4 linked regions of the Homo sapiens genome follow. The protein of the gene in region 2 purifies or fractionates together with the protein of the main gene of each other region. This does not show direct contact. Each region holds a gene or a part of one and is shown on either strand. Other genes may lie near its edges. The genes, in order: UTRN, PGM5, GPI and TALDO1.

What was found.
Region 1: the proteins of PGM5 (region 2) and UTRN purify together in Homo sapiens (affinity purification with western blotting, with the first as the bait; one study listed by BioGRID). This does not show direct contact.
Region 3: the proteins of PGM5 (region 2) and GPI fractionate together in Homo sapiens (co-fractionation; one large-scale study listed by BioGRID). This does not show direct contact.
Region 4: the proteins of PGM5 (region 2) and TALDO1 fractionate together in Homo sapiens (co-fractionation; one large-scale study listed by BioGRID). This does not show direct contact.

The regions. Positions count from the first base shown.
Region 1 is NC_000006.12:144,287,801-144,292,008, reverse strand, and holds part of UTRN (utrophin), read right to left. Parts: exon of another isoform or gene 4,055-4,208; intron 273-4,054; 5' UTR 181-272; coding exon 102-180; intron 1-101.
Region 2 is NC_000009.12:68,527,111-68,531,769, reverse strand, and holds the end of PGM5 (phosphoglucomutase-like protein 5), read right to left. Parts: intron 2,204-4,659; coding exon 2,114-2,203; 3' UTR 709-2,113; downstream 1-708. UniProt on the Homo sapiens protein: Component of adherens-type cell-cell and cell-matrix junctions. Has no phosphoglucomutase activity in vitro.
Region 3 is NC_000019.10:34,374,849-34,379,056, reverse strand, and holds part of GPI (glucose-6-phosphate isomerase), read right to left. Parts: intron 1,555-4,208; coding exon 1,471-1,554; intron 1,323-1,470; coding exon 1,176-1,322; intron 124-1,175; coding exon 52-123; intron 1-51. UniProt on the Homo sapiens protein: In the cytoplasm, catalyzes the conversion of glucose-6-phosphate to fructose-6-phosphate, the second step in glycolysis, and the reverse reaction during gluconeogenesis.
Region 4 is NC_000011.10:753,538-757,745, reverse strand, and holds part of TALDO1 (transaldolase), read right to left. Parts: intron 1,868-4,208; coding exon 1,744-1,867; intron 1-1,743. UniProt on the Homo sapiens protein: Catalyzes the rate-limiting step of the non-oxidative phase in the pentose phosphate pathway. Catalyzes the reversible conversion of sedheptulose-7-phosphate and D-glyceraldehyde 3-phosphate into erythrose-4-phosphate and beta-D-fructose 6-phosphate.

The sequences.
Region 1 (4,208 bases), on a different chromosome or scaffold from region 2:
CCTCCAAGAAGTTCTTGCAAGAACAATGCAAATCAATCCAAGAAACATAGGTTTTCTAAATACATAAAAATCCATAGCTTTCTTGAGCTTCCTTTACCTACCAGATCTGGACTTAATGATATCACTGAATTCGTTCTGCCCATTGTCAGGACTGGCTTCATGTTCTCCATACTTGGCCATCTTGCCAGAGTTTCAAGATAATCCAAAAACTTTACCAAGTCCTCTTTCTAAGGCTTTCAACTTCCTACGATGGTTCAGCTTGACATCAATACCTAAAAGGAAAAGGGAAAGTACTGACTTGAAAAAATGTATTTATATATTTTATATAGTTATTCGTAGTAACTATTCATTCACCAAATATTTATTGAGTGCCTACCACGTGTAAAGCACCAAGCCAGGCAATGGTGTTATGACTATGAACAAGAGACATAGCCTCTGCCATTACGGCGCTTATGCACACTAAGCAATTAATTACATAATGAATTATTTCATTACAATACTGACAGACTACAAATCATACAAAGGAGAAGCACAGAGTATTAAGAGCACACAGCAGAGGAGTCTGACCTGCCCTGGGCAATTAGAGAAGGCTTTCTTGAAGAGACATTTGAGCCAAGCCTTTAAAGATGACAAGAATTTAATTAGCCAAAAAGGGAAACAGAAAGAGAAAAGGTAAGAGCTTCCTATGTGAAGTGGCAGAAAGAATCATGGAGCAGTCAAAGAATGGAGCACAAGCCAGTGTTTCTGGAAAGAAGACAGCCAAGAGACAAGTGTACCTGTTGAACCAGGTGAAGAAGCTGGGCAGGACCAGGGATAGGACCATGGAGAACAGGTCAAGGGTTTGTGTCTTTATCTGAAGAGCAATGGGGAGCCAGTAGATGGTTCGAAGGAGGGAACCAACATGGTCAAATTGGCCTTTTTAAAAGATCGTCAAGGGACGGGCACGGTGGCTCATGCCTGTAATCCCAGCACTTTGGGAGGCCGAGGCAGGTGGATCACGAGGTCAGGAGTTCGAGACCAGCCTGGCCAGCACAGTGAAACCCTGTCTCTACTAAAAATACAAAAAAAAAAAAAAAATTAGCCAGGCATGGTGGTGTGCACCTGTAATCCCAGCTACTCAGGAGGCTAATGCAGGAGAATTGCTTGAACCTGGGAGGTGGAAGTTGCAGTGAGCTGAGATCACGCCACTGCACTCCACCCTGGGCAACGAGAGTGAGACTCCATCTCAAAAAAAAAAAAAAAAAAAAAAAAAAAAAGACGATTGTGGCTTGTAGGTAGACCACAGTAATATGTGGGGAACCAGTGAAGACTATGGCAGAATATAGCAAAATGCAAATTAAGGAACCTAGCTCATGGGTATATGAATGCTGAATGAAAATTTCTTGCAACTCTTCTGTATGTCTGAGAATTTTTTCATAGTAATATGTTGGGGAAAAATTCCTAATCTTAACCAAGTGATCAAAATTCACATAACCAATCATGGGGCATCATGCAATTGAATGGAAAATCACCACATCATCTACACAATATCCTTGCCAAGATGTTGAACGTGAATCTTCTCATGAGCAGACAAATCTAGACTGTGGCTAGTTTTCAAAAGAAATGGCCTGGTTTCTTCAAAACTGTCAGCGTCTTGAAAACCAAAATTACCTGGGAGAGGGGGAGCTTTGTGAATTAAAGGAGACTAAATAGACATGACAATGAAATGTAATCTTTGATTGAATTCAGAATTTTAAAATAAAACATTTGAGGATCATTTGAAAAATCTGAATTTGGACTATGTATTAGACAATATTATTGTATCAATGTTAAATTTCTTTAACATTAATTATGGTATTGTTGCAGGAGAATGTCTTTGATTGTAAGAGACATGTGGTGAAATATTTAGCAATGAAGTGTGATGGTATCTTCAACTTAAGTTCAAACAGAATAGCATATATCTGTCTATACTGATATAGGTATATTTAGGTTGATATATGTATGTAGATGTATATATGCATACACACAGACAGACAGAAAAATGCAGTAAGTATTGTAAAATAAGTGGGAAAACTAGGCCGGGCAAGGTGGCTCACGCCTGTAATCCCAGCACTTTGGGAAGCCAAGGCAGGTGCATCACCTGAGTTCAGGAGTTCGAGACCAGCCTGGCCAACATGGTGAAACCCCATCTCTACTTAAAAAAAAATACAAAAATTAGCTGGGTGTGGTGGCAGGTGCCTGTAATCCCAGCTACTTGGGAGGCTGAGGCAGGAGAATCACTTGAATCCAGGAGGCGGTGGTTACAGTGAGCCGAAATTGTGCTATTACTCTCCAGCCTGGGTGACAAGGGCAAAATTCCATCTCAAAAAAAATAAAGTAAGTGGGAAAACTTGTTAAAGGGCATCTGGGTCTAGGCGAGGTGGCTCACACCTGTAATCCCAGTACTTTGGGAAGCTTAAGCGAGAGGATTACTTGAGCCCAGAAGTTTGAGATCAGCCTAGGCAACATGGTGAGACCTTGTCTCTACTCCATGTAAATAAAAATTTTAAATAATAAAATAAAATAAAATAAAAAGGACATCTGGGTGTTTATTGTGCTATTCTTTCTATTGTAATATTATATGCAGGAAACAAGTGTGGTCTAAACAAGAGTAGATAGAAAGAAATGGGTGAATATGTGGGATATTTAGATATCAAAGAAAGTCAATAGGATTTGGGAATTGATTGGATATGAGAGATTCATATCCAATGTGCAAAATGTGCAAAATGACTCCCCAATTTTGGCTTAGGCAATTAGGTGAAGTGTGAGTCATTGAGCTGGGCAACACTGAGGATAGCAGGCTGGGAGAAAGGAATCATCAATGTGATTTGGATTTGCAGAGCTTGAAATGCCTCTGAGTTATATAAGCGGAGATGACAAAAAGAGAGTTGGGCCCAGCATGGTGGCTCATGCCTGTAATCCCAGCTCTTTGGGAGGCTGAGGCAGGCAGATCACTTGAGGTCCAGAGTTCAAGACCAACCTGGCTAACACTTGAGGTCAAGAGTTTGAGACCAGCCTGGCCAACATGGCGAAACCCTGTCTCTACTAAAAATATAAAAATTAGCCAGGCATGGTGGCAAACACCTGTAATCCCAGCTACTCAGGAGGCTGAGGCAGGGGAATTGATTGAACTCAGGAGGTAAAGGTTGCAGTGGGCCAAGATCGCTGCCACTGCACTCCAGCCTTGACGACCGAGTGGGTGAGACTCCATCTCAAAAAAAAAAAAAAAAAAAAGAGAGAGAGAGAGAGTTGGATATAAAGGATTGGATCATCAATCTGACAGATTTTATGAGAGTCTAAAAAACTTTTTTCATTTTTTATAGGCTCTACTACTGCTAAAAATTTATGGATTATTATATGATTACATTCTTTCATTCAAGTACATAACTATAAAGGATTTGCTAAATTCTTAAGTGTATTTTATTATATTCAAGAATCAAAAACTTTGTTCAGAAGAATGTCTATAAAAGTTTATCATGGAAAATTAAGTTTGCCCAGGGAAAAATTCTCTTTCCTGGAAAGAACTACAGTGTATCACTTTGGAGCAGTAAGTCTAATGCTTTTCTTCACTATTGGTCTTAGCCAAGATCTCCACTTCTATGCTACCCAAAGCCTTTATTCACCCATAAAAGAGAAAAGTCAACTGTTTACACACTACTTTATTCCATTTGCCCATTATCAGTAACACTTCTTCACTATAATGTTTCACTTGCCACTCTCCTCAAGGTGATTTTTCAAATTTTTCTCTTCTTGATAATGAAAATCCCTTACAGGTTGCAAAGATACAGCAGAAAAGGTGATCAGAGTACAGAGGAAAATGGGGAGAAAGAAGAATAACAGAAGGCTATTTAAATAGTGATAGCCACTGAGGTTACTTGCCATTAATGGCCAGAGGAATTTGAGTACACTTAAGGCAAAGGATGACTCCTTCTAATTGCCAAATGCAGAATCTTTGGTTCTCAGGAGACAGAATCAAAGTTTCACCACGAACAATGCATCCCAGTGTGACCCTCCGTCTTCCACACCTATAAAATGGAGGGAACACCATCTTCACAGAAGGCTAGGTGAGAAACTGAGAATCAATGAATGAGATGTTGCTTTAGAAGCTTCAAGCCCTATACAAATGCAATTTATTGTTACCTCTGCCCTAGATTTCCCTTCCCTCAAATGATATTCTGTAAAAGCCAGAT
Region 2 (4,659 bases):
ATGTTTTATCCATTTCTTTGCCCCATCTAAAACAGAACTCTGCCTAGAGGAGTTGCTCAACCAATGTCCACAGAATGAATGAATGAACACATAGATGGATGAATGGATGGACTGATGGCTAAATATATATTTGGGCTACTGTCCACGCATGACTCCATATCAAAATAAAGAAATATAATTTTTATGTAAGGACTAATTTACATATGAACTTACAAGTTAGAGATCATTAAAAGTTCAGCAACTTGAGAAAATAAATATTTTCTTACCTAGAGCTGATACACCTAAGAATACATCTGAGCGTCCCAACCAAGACATCCGTGATTAATGAACACATGGATGGCTAGCATAGATGTCCACTCTTGAGACAAGAACCTGAGAACCAAAGCTATGACATGAATTTGATTCCACTGGTGATCAATCTTGAAATGGTTTTGTTTTAGAATCTCAGCTCAAAGCCACCTTCCTATTATTTTGAAATGAAGACAGTTACAGTGGAGGTCTAGATGCCATTTCAGTTTCTGCTGACTCCCAAAGGCAGTTTTGAGTAACTTACCTTTTCTGTTCCATTTAATACATGTCTCTTGCCATAATAGTGAAAAACAGCCCTTGCAGGTTTTCTGAAAGGCAGATTTATCAGGATAGGTGACCAGTACTGGAGTTTCTCAACTGGTGAGACAAACAAATAAGTAAAAACCCACAATCCTTGGATAAGGTTGAAATTAGGAATTTCTTTTTTATTGGCCACTAAATGTCCTAGCAAGTTTCTGACAGAAGCACAGACAGAAAATGGAAACAAATACCTTACTGGGAATGTTTCCTTGCTTGCACTAACCTTGACTACAGCAATAACGCATTGCTTAACAGTCAAAGTGCACCAGGTCATTTCCGCAAATGGCAGGGTGAGTGACTGTGCCGTTCCCAAGGAAGCAAAACAGACACAAACAGGTCCCACGCGCTGGGTGTCCTGGCTGAGTACAGAGGAGGCTGCTAGACCGGCAGTACCCTTTTCCCAAGTGAGGAAAGCCAGCTGTGACACTCTGCTTGCCGGCAGGGGTCCCCACCCTCCCCTCCACCATCTGGCCCATAGCTGTACCACCAATTACATTTTCTTCCAGCTTCCACTTCATTTCCTACTTTTACAGCATTTCATCCTCTCCTTTTGCAGCCTTTACAAATAAGATCAGAAATGTGTCCAAACAAGTGCATTAAGATAGGCCCCTATTGGCCAAGTCAAAGAGCTCTCACACATGGTGGTCTTTTTGCCTTCTCAAGAGGAACTTGTATAAACCCATGTACCAACATACTTGATGTAATCAAGGAAGGATCCCCTCCAAATTTTAAGCATTTAATTGCAGAGTCTTGTCAAGAAACTTCTTCCCAACTTTACAACTGAATGGCTGAATTTGAAAGAAGGTATCCAGCTTAATAGCTAAAATAATACTATTTACAAAATAAGAGAGGAAAACACCTATTGATATATTTTGTTGGAAGTGCACCATTGTGATTTGTACAAAGCTTTAGAAGATGTGAGAGAAGGTGGTACAGGGATGTTGGGGATGGGATGGGGGAGGCAGGGCCATCGGGTGGGTGGCAGGAGTGAGGTGGGCTGTTGGGAGTTCTATAATAAAACCTTCCCCCATTGTAGACCTGACCTAGGATGAAAAGATAAACCCTCCTCCATGCTGGGAGTGTCTCCTTCTGCCTGCCCAGGGGCACCTGGGACTTAGGGTCAGTTTCATTCTGGCACTGTTCTCTCTTGTGATTTTAGAACATTTTCTCACTTGGCACAAGTGATGCACAAATGTTGTGATTAACAGCTGCCTAGCCCAGTTGTTGTCAAAAGGGGAGGTTCCTTTGTGTGATAAAATGTAGATACCAAATTATAGTGCAGCTTTAACAGACAACTAAAGGCCCTGCTGCATTTGGAGGAATAGGACAAAACCAAAACCAAATGGATTTTTTTTCTTTTCCCACCCACCCTCTATCCCCCAAAAGCAAAATATCTTTTGTTTTTCCAAAGTCATAAGAGGCACAAACAGGTAGCAAGAAGGCATCAGTGAAGCATCTCCCGCTGAGCACTCTCTTTGGCCCTGGTGAGTGATCTTTCCTCTATTCAGGTGATGACAGTGGGTCCCCTCCGGCCAGTTCTCTCATGAATCTGGGATATTTTCAGTGCGATGGCTATGAGAGGGCTCAGCACTGCCTGCAAAAGGAAAAGGAAAGTCTGTGAACAACTCAAGTCAGTTACATTTTGGGGCATTCTGATGGATTTCTACCATAAGCATCTGGACTCAGATTCCAATTCACTGTTTACAGGCAGTCTTCATGAGCAGGACATTTGCTTCCTCCTCCACCAATGGTAGTTGGAATGGGCAGGGCAGGAGAGTAGGGGGAGAAGGTGATCTCCAAAGTCTTAACCAGCTTCAAAAGAAATTTATCTATAATAGGAAAATGTACAACCCAACTACCAAACATGAGAGCACTGTATGAAGACAGCATTGTGAATTAAGGGAGTTCAGAAAAACTCCAGTCTTCTGCTGCTACACCCTCATCCTCACCACACACACACACACACACACACACACACACACACACACACACACACGAGAATAAAAGCTCATTCTTCATCCTAGGGCCATGGATTTAAAGAACCCACAATCCTGATGTTTCTGAAATGACAGACCAATTCATTGGCCAACGTTGCAGAAATGACTGATCATGCCTTCCCATTACGTAACACTGGGCTTATGAGGCACCTCAGTGGGTTTTCTGGAGGAGGTGGGCATGCTTTAGAAGCCTAAGGAATAGGTTCTTGGGAAGTTGAAGGACATGAGAAGGAGGAAGACTCATTTCTTTCTTATTGTTTCATGGGATTGAGGCATTGTTTTCCGAGGTGTGGAGCATGCAACACTCACAATGATTTTCAGTGGTGCATGGATATGGTATTGCTAATAAAACAGTGAGAAAATCAGTCTATTTTCCGTTCTTCAATCCTTCTGATTTCATCAAGGAGAAACTCTGTTTGCTGCCAATCTTTAACAATTTAACCAAGATAGTGCATGCCTCAGGAGTTACCCAGCTAGAATGTAATGTCACTGAATGTTTTTATTGAATTCATGTTCATGATGTGCTTATATTTATCAAGTGGTATTGTTTTTTCCATGTAGAGTACTTTTATAATAAATAAGTAGATTGAGGTAAAAACAAAGTGAGTCAATTTAAAGACAAATATTGGCCACGCGTGGTGGCTCATGCCTGTAATCCCAATATTTTGGAAGGCTGAGGCAGAGGATCACTTGAGCCAGGAGTTTAATACCAGCCTGAACAACATAGACCGCATCTCTACAAAAAATAAGAATTAGCTGAGTGCAGTGGTGTGTGCCTATAGTCCTAGCTACTCGGTAGGCTGAGATGGGAGGATGGCTTGAGCCCAGAAGTTCAAGGTTACAGTGAACTATGATTGCATAACTGCATTCCAACCTGGGTGACAAAGTGAGACCCTGCCTGTCTCTAAAAAGAAAAAATAAAAATAAAATAAAAAATAAAGACACCTATTAATATAGAGATACTGATAGAAAAGAAGTTTGGGTAATATTAGGATAATGGAAGAAACAAAAATTCTGTAATTCAGGAAAAGAAGGCTTGCATTTTGGGAGGGGGAGAGGAATTCAGTTCCTTGTGGGCCCTAACCTATTCCCATGCATAAAGGGAGTGCACACATTCCAATCCACACAACAGGAACACAAGGAAATGCACAAGGTACAAGACATCACAAGCAATCCATTGTGTCCTGAGTGGCATGTAGATACAGAAGAATCCTGAGAGATGTGAGCCAGTCTTGTTGGGAGGGACCTAAATGCTAGAGTGAGGTGTAAGGTTTTAATTCATTAGGCAAGGGGAGGCATTGAAGTGTTTTGGGCTGAAAGGTGACATCACAGCTGTGCTTTGGAAATATTGATCTGGCAGCAATTTATGGTTACATGTATTAAATTATCTTACTCTATGAAGATGGCTAGATGGACAAGCTCACATAGACTCCTGGAAGCTGGAAGAAAAATGAAAATCTAGAACACAAGAAAGTGGCACTTTCCTCCGGTTCCGTGTTGATCATCTTGATTCGTAAAAACAGAAGGGATTCTTTTCCTCTTAATAACCCTGTTGGTGCCCAGAAACATTTTACACTGGCACATTTTGCCAGGACATATCCCATGTGATGCCAAGATAGAGGGATCTCTATTCTTTAGGAGCAAAGTGCCCATTTTGTACAGAAATTCAATTATTAGTTTTTGCTCCTCTTCCTGTCTTCTCTTCCCTCTTTCCTGCTCCCCCTTTTTGGTTATGTAATTCTTCATTAACACCTATCAAAGAAGTTAAACTCAGACAGAAAAAGAGAGTGAAGTTAAACTCAATCACTTTAGCTGAGGTTTTAGAGGGTGAATAAAGATAAACATATACTATCCTATTATTTTAAGAAAATGCAATGAAAATGAATTTGAACCTTACGGAACTAAAGGATTAAAACATATTCAGTTTTACATCATTGTAAATTTCAAGATTTTTTGACTCCACATCTTTAAGTGGTGGTACCTATTGGCAAAAGGGCGGGGAAGCAAGTTTTAACAAATACTGTAAACACCAGAGAAGTTCTCTTTTCTGATC
Region 3 (4,208 bases), on a different chromosome or scaffold from region 2:
CTCTTCCCAGCCCAGAGGCTAACCACGAGGAAGGCCCTATAGCCCACTCACATCCTTGGCCGCCTGGAGAAACCACTCCTTCGCCGTCTCTGCATTCGTGATGGTCTCCTGGGTAGTAAAGGTCTGCAACCAAAGAGAACAGCAGTGGGCGCCCGAGCTTAGGGGTGGGTGCAGGCCTTGAGCCAGGGTTCAGCAGTAGAGGCCAAGGCAATGCCCAGCTGTCCCATGGAGCAGTATTTGCAGGTCAGTGACAGTGACGCCACATAACCTCCTGAGATTCCAGCTCTTTAAAACCAGAGGAGGGGGGACGGTAAACACACCCCCCAACCCTAAGCCTGCAGGTCAAAGGCCGCAGCTTCTCCCCTGAGGGGCTGCAGTCAACCTGAGGCTCTCTTCGGCCCAGGCTGGAAGGTATCTCAGAATTCAGATGGAATTCTTCATATTTTATGTACATTCATGTGAGTAAATAGAACATAAATAAAAACAAACAAAACCCCTCTATTATCAGGGCATGGCTCTGGGATCAGAAAGGAGCAAGCATGGCTGGGCATGGCGGCTCAAGACTGTAATCCCAGCACTTTGGGAGGCCAAGGGGGGGTGCATCACCTGAGGTCAGGAGTTCAAGACCAGCATGGCCAACATGGCAAAAGCCCATCTCTACTAAAAAATAATAATAATAAATAAATAAATAATAAAATTAGCCAGGCGTGGTGGTGTGTGCCTAGTCCCAGCTACTTGGGAGGCTGAGGCAGGAGAATCGCTTGAAACCTGGGAGACGGAGATTGCAGTGAGCCGAGATCACGCCACTACACTCCAGCCTGGGTGACAGAGCCAGACTCTGTCTCAAAAACAACAACAAGAAAAGGAGCAGGCATAAAGGACAGGTTTGTAAGAAAGTGGCGAGCAGTCCCAGGCTGAGCAGAGATGCCGCAAGGCGAGCGGGTGTGGTCAGGACACAAAGGTTCAAACTGATGTGTTCAGGATTTCATCAGTCAACCTTATTTGCTGCTAGGCATGGAAACAGTCTAGGGCAGCTGTACTGACCTGATCCACAAACCATGGTTCACTCGGAACCCACCAAAAGGGACCAATGGCCAGGGGGATGGCAAGACAGCTGTCCCTCCCCACCCCAACACACACAGGGCCAGGGGCCGGGCAGTTTTCGGCACTCATACCTTGGAGGCAATGATGAACAGGGAGGACTCGGGGTTCAGCTGGGCCAGGGTTTTGGCAATGTGAGTTCCATCAATGTTGGAGACATACCAGACGCGGGGACCTCCTGAAGAGTATGGCTTAAGGGCTTCAGTCACCATGAGGGGTCCCTGCGGGGAGACATAGCATCAGAGAATAAGAATTCAGGGCCCACGAAAAGTGGAGACAGCCAGGTCCCATCCCTGGAGAAAGTAAAGACCTGAGTGGGACCAACAGTGCCCAGACTCCCACCCTACCCCAAGGCAGTTTTCTCCTCACCAGGTCGGAGCCGCCAATGCCAATGTTGATGACGTCCGTGATGGTCTTGCCTGTGTACCCCTTCCAGTCACCGCTCCGGACACGCTGGCACAGGGGCGAAGATGCCATCAGCCCAAACCCCCAGGCATAATCCGCTGCTCAAAAACATCATTACTGCCGTGTCCTGGTACCTCAGTCCCAGCTTTCAGGCCCTCGCAGGTGCCTCTATTTTTTTGTTTTTAATTTACCATATATATATATATATATATATTTTTTTTTTTTTTTTTTTTTTTTTTTTTTTTTTTTGAGATGAAGCCTTGCTCTGTTGCCCAGGCTGGAGTGCAGTGGCATGATCTCGGCTCCCTGCAATCTCTGCCTCCCAGGTTCACGTCATTCTCCTGCCTCAGCCTCCTGAGTAGCTGGGACTACAGGCGCCCGCCACCACACCCAGCTAGTTTTTTGTATTTTTAGTAGAGACAGGGTTTCACCGTGTTAGCCAGGATGGTCTCGATCTCCTGACCCTGTGATCTGCCCGCCTCAGCCTCCCAAAGTGCTGGGATTACTGGCTTGAGCCACCGCACCCAGCTATTTATTTTTAATTTTTTTTTTGAGACAGAGTCTCCACTTTCTGGGTTCTAACAATTCTCATGCCTCAGTCTCCTGAGTAGCTGGGACTACAAGCCTGCGCCACCAGCATGCCTAGCTAATTTTTTTGTATTTTTAGTAGGGACGAGGTTTTGCCATGTTGGCCAGGCTGGTCTCGAATTACTGGCCTCAAGTGATCTGCCCAGCTCGGCCTCCCAAAGTGCTGGAATTACAGGTGTGAGCCACCGCGCCTCGCTATTTACTTATTTTTAAAACTGTGCCTTAGGGGCCAGGCAGGGTGGCTCAAGGCTGAGACAGGAGGATTGCTTGAGTCCAGGAAGTTGAGGCTGCAGCAAGCCAAGATCGCAACACTGCACCTCCAGCCTAGGTGACAGAGGAAGACCCTGACTCCAAAAACAGAACAAAATGCTCTGCTTTAGCCTTTTTTTTTTTTTTTTTGAGACAGGGTCTCACTCCGTCGCCCAGGCTGGAGTACAACGGCACGATCTCAGCTCACTGCAGCCTCCGCCTCCAGGCTCCAGGGTTCAAGCAATTCTCCTGCCTCAGCCTCCCAAGTAGCTGGGATTACAGGCACCTGCCACCCTGCCCAGCTAATTTTTAGTATTTCCAGTAGAGATGGGGTTTCGCCGTGTTGGCCACGCTGGTCTCAAACTCCTGACCTCAGGTGATCCACCTGCCTCGGCCTCCCAAAGCGCTTGGATTACAGGCATGAGCCACCACGCAAAGCCTATTTTATTTTTTGTAGAGACAGCGTCTTGCTACGTTGCCCAGCCTGGTCTCTAACTCCTGGCCTCAAATAATCCTCCCATCTTGACCTCCCAAAGTGTTGGGATTACAGGCGTGAGCCACTACACAAGGCATAGGAGTCTCTGGAGACCACACTGGTCCCTGCCACACTCACCACCAACTAGACTCTTTCCTGGTTACAACAGTGAGACATCCCTACCTTACAGCGACACTGTCAGAATTTGCAAAACCAGGGATAACTCGGCAGAATCTGCTATGCCAGAGACCAAGAGATGTGAAATGTTGAAAACTGTGACTGGGCTATGCTGGGGAAAGGAGTATCAGACCCGCAGCCAGTCTCCAATCAGACACCAGTGATCCTTGCTTCCTGGAATTCATGCCTCTGCATAGCTTCCGCCTGTGCTGGGAGGGGTGACCTATGCACCCATCCAGAGACTGCAAAAAGGGGTGAAATGTGACTTCAGAAGTGAGTTCAGAGAACGTGCAGTTTCTGCTTTGCTCTCTTGGATGACTCGCTTTGGGGAAGCTGTCTATCATGTTGTGAAGACATTCAAACAGTTTCATAAAGAAGCCCACGCGGCAGCGAACTAAGGCCTTTTTCCAAAAGTCACAGCCAACTCGCTTCCTGTGTATGGGACACTTTAGAGGGGGGTCCTCCAAACCCATCAAAACTTCCGATAACTGGGGCGCTGGCCAACATGTTGACTACAGCCTTATGAGAGATCCCCAAACCAAGACCAACCAGCTAAGCCGCTCCCAAACTTCTGACCCACAGACACTGTGAGAGGTAATAAAAGTTTACTGCTAGGCCGGGCATGGTGGCTCACACCTGTAATCCTGGCACTTTGGGAGACCAAGGCAGGCAGATCACAAGGTCAGGAGTTCGAGACCAGCCTAGTCAACATGGTGAAACCCCGTCTCTGCTAAAAAAAAAAAATACAAAAATTATCCAGGCATGGTGGCGTGTGCCTGTAATCTCAGCTACTCGGGAGGCTGAGGCAGGAGAATTGCTTAAATCCAGGAGGCAGAGGTTGCAGTGAGTGGAGATCACGCCATTGCACTCTAGCCTGGGCGACAGAGCAAGACTCCGTCTTAAAAAAAAAAAAAAAAGTGTATTGCTGTTTTAACCCAAGTTTTGATGTCATTTGTTATACAATGATAGATAACTAATACAGATTTTGGTATCAGAAGTACAGTGTGGTCATAATAAAAACCTAAATATGCAGGCCGGACTCAGTGGCTCATGCCTATAATCCCAGCACTTACTGGGAAACTGAGGCAGGAGGATCACTTGAGGCCAAGAGTTTAAAACTAGCCTGGGCAACATAGCAAGACGTCATCTCTACAAAAAATAAAAAAGTAGCCAGGCATGGTGACATGTGCCTGTAGTCCCAGCAACTTAGAAG
Region 4 (4,208 bases), on a different chromosome or scaffold from region 2:
TGCAAAATATTATATTTTCTATCTCTTCAAAGTTATTGGACAGACACCCAGTGAAGTCCATGATTCTGTTCCAAAATCTGAGCAGCCTTGTTAGCCCACTACACACAGGAAGATCTTCAGCTAGACGCTCAGAGGTTAGAATTCTTGGGCCAGACTGGGTGCAGTGGCTCACGCCTGTAATCACAGCACCCTGGCAGGCCAAGGTGGGCAGACTGCTCAAGCTCAGGAGTTCGAAACCAGCTAGGGCAACATGGTGAAACCCTGCCTCTAAAAACAAATACAAATATTAGCCAGGTGTGGTGGCGTGCACCTGTAGTCCCAGCTACTTGGGAGGCTGAGGTGGGAGGCTGGCTTGAGCCTAGGATGTAGAGGCTGCAGTGAGCTGAGATTGTGACACTGCACTCCAGCCTAGGTGACAGAGCCAAACTCTATCTCAAAAAAAAAAAAAAAAAAAAATTTGGGGCCATCTGGACATGGGTGCAGGGCTCATCTGTTGATCACCCAGCCAAGCAAAGGCACCAATGTCACCCAATAACAGGAGCACCAAGGCCTCACTGATGCCACAGGGGTGCAACACCACGAGATGAGGAAAAGGGAGCTAAGAAGAGAGAGGAGAGGGTCAGACTCAGTGTCCAGAGTGGCTGTCACAACATGGTCAGGGGAGCCACTCACCAGCCACCTGGACCTAAGCAAAGCCAGTACCAGAGAGGGACCTGCTCCTGTGTGGTGCCCACGTTGCCTGCTCGGCACCATCTTCAAGCTTTGAATTATTACCCTGAAGAGAATCTAAAATGACATCTAAAATATGCAAAGCCACAGGCATGAAGAGGGCTCTACAGTTGCTTGGTTGGGTAAGGGAGTGGGGAGCTACTGCAAACAGGTACCAGAGAACATTCTGGGAGTTATAAAAGCTATTAAAAAATTAAAAAGCCAGGCACGGTGGCTCACGTCTGTAATCCGAGCACTGTGGGAGGCCAAGGCAGGTGGATCACTTGAGGTAAGAAGTTCGAGACCGGCCTGGCCAACATGGTGAAACCCTGTCTCCACCAAAAATACAAAAATTATAGCCAGGTGTGATGGCGCATGCCTGTAATCCCAGCTGCTCGGCAGGCTGAGGCAGGAGAATCGCTTGAATCTGGGAGGCAGAGGTTGCGGTGAGCCGAGATTGTGCCAGTGCACTCCAGCCTGGACAACAAAAGCAAAACTCTGTCTCAAAAAAAAAAAAAAAAAAAATACAAAAATGAGCCAGGAGTGGTGGCACACACCTGTAAGCCCAGCTAATTGGGAAGCTGAGGCAGGAGAATTGCTTGCACCAGGGAGGCGGAAGTTGTAGTGAGCCAAGATTGCTCCACTATACTCCAGCCTGGGTGACACAGCGAGACTCCGTCTGAAAAGTAAAAAATAAAATGACAGCCAGAAGGTAAGTGTTACCAGAGCTGGGGAGACTGACTACAGGAGGGGAGGAGGGGCCTGTGGGGGTCTGCAAGTGCTCTGCATCTTGACTGGGGTGGTATTTACAGGGTACACACATTGGCAAAACTCTCTGAACTGCTCATTTACCACAGGTGCAGGTTACTTCATGCAGATTACACTTCAATAAACAAAAATAGGCAAAAAGATAGGGTTTTTTTCCCCCCTTGAGTTCATGGTGTTTGAGAACTAAAATTCAGTTAGGGAGGGAAGCAAGGCCAACTAGACTAGCACGAGGGCCTAGCTGGGACCCTCCCGAGTCCAGGCACTCACCCGCCCAGCTTCCGGCCATAGGCAATCGCCTCCTCCACCAGCTCCTGGTAAGCGGGCATCTGTGCTGCGGCCAGGATCAGGGACGGGTTGGTGGTAGCATCCTGGGGCTTGTACTCGTCGATGGCTAGGGAAATAGTTTTCAAAAGCCAAAGTAAGTGGAGTACTTGCTTCCAACTGGAAACATGTGAAGGAACCCTGTAATTCCCCAGGACGTTAGGGGAGTCCAGAGCATTTCCGAAAGCGGGGTCCAGCCACACTTCTCACACCTTCTTCTGGGTCACTGAAGGTTCATCAAGAGGCGGCTGTTTGCATAATGATGGAACAACAAACACTAAGTGCCCAGCGATCAAATATGCCCCTGCAAGAGGTGACCTGTAACAGCATGGGAGTGAGCGGTGCGACAGCTGGGAGAACGCTGGTCAAAGGAAAATGTGCATCCCACTGCCGTACCACCACAAGGAGGCGCGCGGTCTAGTCATGAGCCACATGTGAACGCTGATCTTATGGACTGGGTCATTATCACCATACCCAGCTGCAACAGAGTCAAGAAGCCAAGGGGAGCTGGGCGCGGCGGCCCACGCCTGTAATCCCAGCACTTTGGGAGGCTGAAGCGGGTGGATCACGAGGTCAGGAGATCAAGACCATCCTGGCTAACACGGTGAAACCCCGTCTCTACTAAAAATACAAAAAACTAGCTGGGTGTGGTGGTCGGCACCTGTAGTCCCAGCTACTCGGGAGGCTGAGGCAGGAGAATGGCTTGAATCCAGTAGGCGGAGCTTGCAGTGAGCCGAGATCGCGCCACTGCACTCCAGCATGGGTGACAGAGTGAGACTCCATCTCAAAAAAAAAAAAAAAAAAAAAAAAAAAGGCCAAGGGGAAAAGCACTCAGGACACACAGCATTGCTCCAAAAATTATTACCTGCAAGCCTAGTTGCTGAAGCGGCCTCTAACCTGAAACCAGTTTATCTAATAGTTGCTGAACCGCACTGCTGCAACTTTAAGACTAATTTTATCCACTGCTATCACTCACCAATCATTCTTTTTAGGTTTCATAGAAAGACTAAATTAGCCAGGTGTGGTAGTGCATGCCTGTAGCGTCAGCTACTCAAGAGGCTGAGGCAGGAGGATCGCTTGAGCCCAGGAGGTTGAGACTGCAGTGAGCCATGATCATGCCACTACACTCCCACCTGGGCCAGAGAGCAAGACCCTATCTCTTAAAAAAATAAATTCAGGCCGGGTGCAGTGGCTCATGCCTGTAATCCCAGCATTTTGGGAGGCTGAGGCTGGTGGATCGCCTGAGGTCAGGAGTTTGAAACCAGCCTGGCCAAAATGGTGAAACCCAGTCTCTACTAAAAATACAAAAATGAGCTGGGTGTGGTGACACATGCCCGTAATCCCAGCTACTCAGGAGGCTGAGGCAAGAGAATCGCTTGAACCCAGGAGGTGGAGGTTGCAATGAGCTGAGATTGCACCACTGCACTCCAGCCTGGGTGACAGAGTGAGACTCTGTTTCATAAATAAATAAGCAAACAAATAAATAAATATCGCATTCAGTAGCTTCTGCAGGTAACTTGACAAAACCTGACCTAAGAATCCTTTTAGTCGGAGTGGACAACTTTGACAATGTCCCAAGTTTTTGTTCAAATTGTACTGGTGGTCCCTTTTATAAAGCTGACATTCTCTGCTTTAATCAACCCAGTCATAAAATGCTACTCAGTGGCTGGGCACAGTGGCTCACACCTGTAATCCCAGCACTTTGGGAGGCCAACGGGGGTGGATCACTTGAGGTCAGGAGTTCGAGACCAGCCTGGCTAACACGGCGAAACCCTGTCCCTACTAAAAATATAAAAATTAGCCAGGCGTGGTGGTGCATGCCTATAATCCCAGCTACTCGGGAGGCTGTGGCAGGAAAATCACTTGGACCCGGGAGGTGGAGGTTGCAGTGAGCCGAGATTGTGCCACTGCACTACAGCCTGGGCAATGGAGCAAGACTCTGTTGCAAAAAAAAATAAAAAAGTTTTTTTCTTCAGAGTAACCAACTAAACAGTTCAAAACGTCCAAACTTGTAGCCACTGAGTAGCTTTTTTTTTTTTTCTGACACAGAGTCTCACTCTGTCATCCAGGCTGGAGTGCAGTAAAATGATCTCGCCTCACTGCAACCTCCTCCTCCAGGGTTCAAGTGATTCTCCTACCTCAGCGTCCTCAGTAGCTGGGACTACAGGCTCACACCATGATGCCTGGCTAATTTTTGTACTTGTATTTATTTTTTATTTTTTTCCGAGACGGAGTCTTGCACTGTTGCCCAGGCTGGAGTGCAGTGGCGCAAGCTCAGCTCACTGCAACCTCCAACTCCCAGGTTCAAGTAATTCTCCTGCCTCAGCCCCATGAGTAGCTGGGATTACAGGCACGAGCCACCACGCCAGGCTATGGTTTTTTGTGTTTTTTTTTTTGTATTTGTATTTTTA